Regions from separate parts of the Homo sapiens genome. Here region 2 is linked to region 1. Evidence: fine-mapped expression QTL. A gene starts in region 1. The other region holds a variant in brackets. All regions are shown on one strand. Distances are from middle to middle.

Evidence for each region.
Region 2: its variant is fine-mapped to the expression of RAPGEF2 in whole blood (TOPMed, PIP above 0.99).

Annotation. Positions count from the first base shown.
Region 1 is chr4:159,101,682-159,104,583 of GRCh38, forward strand. RAPGEF2 (Rap guanine nucleotide exchange factor 2) reads left to right here and starts at 1,398. Exons shown (of 30, transcript NM_001394067.2): 1 at 1,398-2,550. The coding sequence starts at 2,482. RefSeq lists an enhancer at 548-1,239 and silencers at 888-1,427, 1,558-1,777, 1,818-2,107, 1,856-2,150, 2,118-2,537.
Region 2 is chr4:158,927,517-158,930,418 of GRCh38, forward strand. All of the region lies in intron 3 of SPMIP2 (sperm microtubule inner protein 2), which reads right to left. Among named protein-coding and RNA genes, the nearest start is that of SPMIP2, 110 kb to the right of the region's middle. The variant C/T (reference allele first, on the strand shown) is at 1,264.

The DNA.
Region 1 (2,902 bases):
GGCACTTATTCATGTTCCTTTGCTTTCAAGGTAGTGGCCTATGTCATAGAGAATTTGATGTTGGCGCTCAACTAAGAGGTGAAAGAGAAATATAGAGAAGCAGTTCCAGCAAGAGTAATATAAAAAGGTCTACAGATACAATTTGTAACTCAGATTCCCTTTCACAAGGTTGGGCAGGGACAGTCCCTTTGCTAGGAAGTCACACAAGCTGTTTAGTGCACACAGGTGACTTAAGGAACCCCAAAATGTTAGCTGACAATCTATTCCAAGTGTTTAAACTAGATGTTGAAAATCATGTTTGAAAAGTTCAACGCAGTAGCTCATACATAAAACTCATTGTGTCTATAGATATCAAAATAAGAACTTGTGGGGGGTGGGGGCAAACAAAAATAAATCCCTGGGACCAGAACAGCAGAGTGGTCCCCGATGCTTGGGCTGACCTTAACACACCTCTACGTGGCCGGGGCAAGGAGTGGGGGGGAGCTGAGGGAATCAGCAGGAGCGGTGACATCTTGAAGGACGAGGTATTGTTTCTGCACCATGTGGGTCCGGTTTGGAAATTTGAGCATCTAGAGGAGGAGGCTTGTTCTGTCCAAGGCAAAGCCAGACCTACCAATAAATGTTTCTGATTATGTCACAGAACTTGCCATCCTGGTCTGTCGCTAAGGAGTGATCAACTTTAAATCTGGAGTGTTTGTTGGTCTAGGGGTGGTAGTGGGTCTGGTGTTGAAACCTCTCTGCCTAATTTCGTGGTCATTTTACTGTCTGAGGTGCCAGAGTGGGCTTGGAAAGCAGGGGAGGGTGCAGCAAATTACAAATAAGCAAAATAAATCCTAAGAGGATTTATCGCCACAGAAGCAACTCGGACGCAACTCTTGGGCTCAAAAAGAATGCCCAGTACAGCCCGGGCTGGTGGGCCGGTCTTTTGCCCAAGGTTAGCTTTCAGCCCCTGGGCGGCGGCGTGGCGCCAGGAGCGGGCGGGGAGCAGCGACCCGACGCGGCTGGGTCTCCTAGTAGGGCGCGTCGGGTGTGGGGAGGGGGCGCGGCGTGAGACAGTGGGGGACACTGCGTGAGGAAAGCCCTGCGCTTCTCTCCGGGGCACCAGGACTTGCGCCCCCTCTTCGGGTCCAGGCCGCGCGCGGGACCCGACAGCCCGGCCGAGGGCTCCGCGACCCACTTGCGGCCAGAGCGCTGCTCACCTGGGCGCCGCCGAAGGTGCCGCTCAGACGCGAGGGCGCGGCCGCTGGCGGGCGGGGAGCGGGGAGGCGGGACCCGGCGCGACGGGGCTGCCCCGCCCCCCGATGATGCGGCGGCCGCCGACTCGCCCCCACGCTGTCACTCATTCCTCACCATGGTTGCAGCACAAAGCAACAAGCCCCAGAGGCCGCTTCCTCCCTGAGGAGCGGCTCCGGCGGCCGGAGAAGGCGCAGGAGGAGGAAGAGGCGGAGGAAGAGGAGGGGAATCGCCGCTTCCCAAACACTCTCTCCGAGGGGGCTGTGCGCGGCTCTCGGCTTTCGGCCCTCGGACGCCCGCGCCGGGAGTCCGAACCCGGGCTGTCCGCGGCCCCCTCTTCCCCCTCCTCCGCCCCGCGCAGACGAGGAACAAAGTTGCCGAGAGCGACTGGGCCGGAGGGCTGCAGCCCGGGCCGGGTGCTCTGGCCGCGGCGGCGCCGGCGCCGGGGCAGCTCCGCTCCGGGCGCGCTGATGGGGGGAGGCGGCGGCGGCGGAGCCCACAGCGGCGGCCCGAGCAGCAGAGGCGGCGGCGGCGGCGGCTGGGCGGCCCGAGGGGATGCAGCAGCAGTCGGGAGGGACGGCCGAGCCCAGTAGACAGAGACCAGGAGCGGCGGCCGAGGCGATCGGGCTTCGCAGCGCCCGGACCTGAGCCAGACCCACCTGGTCCGTCCTCCCGACCGGCGGCCGAGGCGCCCGAGGACTGGGGACGCGGAAGATCCAAGTGATTCTCGGAGACCCCTGGGCGGCGGCTGCGCAAGCCCCTGAGAGGAGGGGGCGACCCTCAGCGCCGTGGGGGAGGAGGCTCCGCCTGCCCACAGCCCTCCCCACTGCCACTCGTACCTCCCTAAAAATAACTCGGGCCCGCTGGGGCCAGGAGGAGCCGCCACTGTCCCCCGAGTGGAGCCGGGGAGGCGTGTCGAGCCAGGGCCGGAGGAAGCCGGCGGAGCGGCGAGGAAGAGGAGGAGGAGGAGGAAGGGGAGTTCCGCCTGCGGGCCGCATCGCACGGCAGCCTAGGGGCGCCGCGACCCTCCCGGCTGCGTCCAGCCCCTCGCGCCTGTACCGCGCTCTCGGCCGCCGGGCCCAGCCGAGCCGCCCCCCCGCGGGCCCCGCGCCGCCGCCGCCGCGGTTTGGCTGATTAGTCGCGGGCGGGCGGGCGGGCGCAGCGCGCAGGGCGGAGGCAGCAGCGGCGCTGGGCCGGGAGGAGGCCGGCCAGGGTGCGGAGCGGCCCCGGCCCGCTCCCAGAGGGGAGATGGCGTCCTACGTAGATAACAGCTTCCGCCAGGCGGTGATGAAGAATCCCCCCGAAAGGACCCCCCAGGTGAGAACGCGGCGGCCGCCTGCCCTTGGCCGGATTTCTGCCTCGCAGGCTGCGTCTTCCCCTGTCCCCCCACCTCCTTCCTGACACAGTTCGCCCCGAGCACCCCACTTCTTGCATCAGGACCCCCAACTTCCAAAGGCATCCCACCTCCGAGTCTTTTACTCCGCCTATCCTGGTTTTATTTTTCCCTCTCCTTGACATTCTGCTCCTTAACTCTTCCCTCCCCATGACTGACCTTTCCCACTATGTTGCCCAGCCGAGAGAGAGAGAGAGAGAGAGAGAGAGAGAGAGAGAGGGAGAGACAGAGAGAGAGAGAGAGAGAGTGTGTGTGTGTGTGTGTATGTGTGTGAAT
Region 2 (2,902 bases), 170 kb before region 1:
TATTGAGAGGTGACAGCGTGCTGGCAGTCCTCACAGCCCTCCCTCGCTCTCGGCGCCTCCTCTGCCTGGGCTCCCACTTTGGCGGCACTTGAGGAGCCCTTCAGCCCACCGCTGCACTGTGGGAGCCCCTTTCTGGGCTGGCCAAGGCCAGAGCCGGCTCCCTCAGCTTGCAGGGAGGTGTGGAGGGAGAGGCGCCAGTGGGAACCCGGGCTGCGCAAGGTGCTTGCAGGCCAGCTGGAGTTCCCGGTTAGACTGGGCTTGGTGGGCCCCGCACTCGGAGCAGCCGGCGGGCCCTGCTGGCCCCGGGCAATGAGGGGCTTAGCACCCGGGCCAGCAGCTACGGCGGGTGTACTGGGTCCCCCAGCAGTCCCAGCCCACCTGCGCTGCACTCGATTTCTCGGCGGGCCTTAGCTGCCTTCCTGTGGGGCAGGGCTCAGGACCTGCAGCCCGCCATGCCTGAGCTTCCCACCCCCTCTGTGGGCTCCTGTGCAGCCTGAACCTCCTCAATGAGCGCCGCCCCCTGCTCCACGGTGCCCAGTCCCATCGACCACCCAAGGGCTGAGGAGTGCAGGCGCAAGGCACGGGACTGGCAGGCAGCTCCACCTGCAGCACAGGTGTGGGATCCACTGGATGAAGCCAGCTGGGCTCCTGAGTCTGGTGGGGATGTGGAGAACCTTTATGTCTAGCTCAGGGATTGTAAATACACCAGTCAGCACACTGTGTCTAGCTCAGGGTTTGTGAATGCACCAGTCGACACTCTGTATCTAGCTACTCTGGTGGGGCCTTGGAGAACCTTTATGTCTAGCTCAGGGATTGTAAATACACCAATCGGCACTCTGTATCTAGCTCAAGGTTTGTAAATACACCAATCAGCACCCTGTGTCTAGCTCAGGGTTTGTGAATGCACCAATCGACACTCTGTATCTAGCTACTCTGGTGGGGCCTTGGAGAACCTTTGTGTCCACACTCTGTATCTAGCTAATCTGGTGGGGAGGTGGAGAACCTTTATGTCTAGCTCAGGGATTGTAAACGCACCAATCAGCGCCCTGTCAAAACAGACCACTCAGCTCTACCAAGCAGCAGGATGTGGGTGGGGCCAGATAAGAAAATAAATGCAGGCTGCCAGAGCCAGCAGTGGCAACCCGCTCGGGTACCCTTCCACACAGTGGAAGCTTTGTTCTTTTGCTTTTTGCAATAAATCTTGCTACTGCTCAGTCTTTGGGTCCACGCTGCTTTTATGAGCTGTAACACCGCTAAGGTCTG[C/T]GGCTTCACTCCTGAAGCCAGCGAGACCACGAGCCCACCGGGAGGAACAAACAACACCAGACGTGCTGCTTTAAGAGCTGTTAACAGTCACCGCGAAGGGCTGCAGCTTCACTCCTGAGCCAGCGAGACCACGATCCCACCGGAAGGAAGAAACTCTGAACGCATCAGAACATCAGAAGGAACAAACTCCAGACGCGCCACCTTAAGAGCTGTAACACTCACTGCGAGCGTCCGAGCGTCCGTGGCTTCATTCTTGAAGTCAGTGAGACAAAGAACCCACCAATTCCGGACACAGTATGATCTTGGCTAACTGCAGCCTCAACTTCCTGGGCTCAAGTGATCCTCCCACCTCAACCTCCTGAGTAGTTAGGACTACAGGTGCATGTCATCATGCGTGGTTACTTAAAAAAATTCTTTTTGTAGAGATGGGGCCTTGCTCTATTGCCCAGGCTGGTCCCACGCTCCTGGCCCCAAGCAGTCTTCCTGCCTTGGCCTCTCAAAGTGTTGGGATTACAGGCATAAGCCAACATACCCAGCACAATCTCTGGCATTTGATTGGATTGTTTAGTCCATTTACATTTAATGTGGTCATAGTCATTGATTTGGTAGGATTTATGTCTGTTATTTTGCTATTTGTTTTCTATAAGTCTTAAATATTTTTTGTTTCTCTATTTCTTCATGCTTGCTTTTGTGGTAGATATTTTCTATCATTTTAGCCTTGCATTTCATTTAAATAGTACACTATTTTAATTCCCTTGTTGTATCTTTTAGTATGCATTTTTGAGTTACTTTCTTAGTGGCTGGTCTGGGGATTATCATTAATATCTTATTTCAAAATAATCTAGTTAGGATTAATACCAACTTAATTTCCATCATATGAAAAACTTTGCTTCAGTATAACTCCATTTCCTCCTTCCTCCTTTGTGCTATTAGTTTTAGACAAATTACATTTTTCTAAATTATATGCCTATCAATATAATTCTATAATTATTGTTTTATGCAGTTATCTTTTAAATCACATAGGAGAAAAGAGAAGTTACAAATCAAAAATATATTAATACTGACTTTATAATATACCTATGTAGTTACCAGTGCCCTTTATTTCTTCATGTGGATTTGAGTTCATGTGTATGGTCCTTTCATTTTAGCCTGAAATATTCTCTTTAGCATTTCTTGCAGGGCAGGTCTGCTAGTGAAAAAAATTCTCAATTTTTGTATATCTGAGAATATCTTACTTTCTCTTTCATTTTCGAGGCATAAAAGCATAGTATTCCTGCATACTACAAATTTCTGCATACATAGAATTCTTGGCTGACAGTCTGTCTTTTAGCACTTTGAATATGTCATCCTCCTGCCTTCTGGCTTCCATGGTTTCTGCTGATAATTCATGTTAATCTTATTGAGGATCTCAGTCTCTCTCTCTCTCTCTCTCTCTCTCACTCGCTCTGAGTTGAAAGAGTCTTGCTCTATCACCTAGGCTGGAGTGCAGTGGTACAATCACAGCTCAGTGAAGCCTCGACTTTCCAAGCTCAAGCAATCCTCCCCACCACAGCCTCCCAAGTTGCTGGGACTACAGGTGCACACGACTTTGCCTATTTTTTGTATTTCTTATAGAGACAGGATTTCATCATGTTGCCAG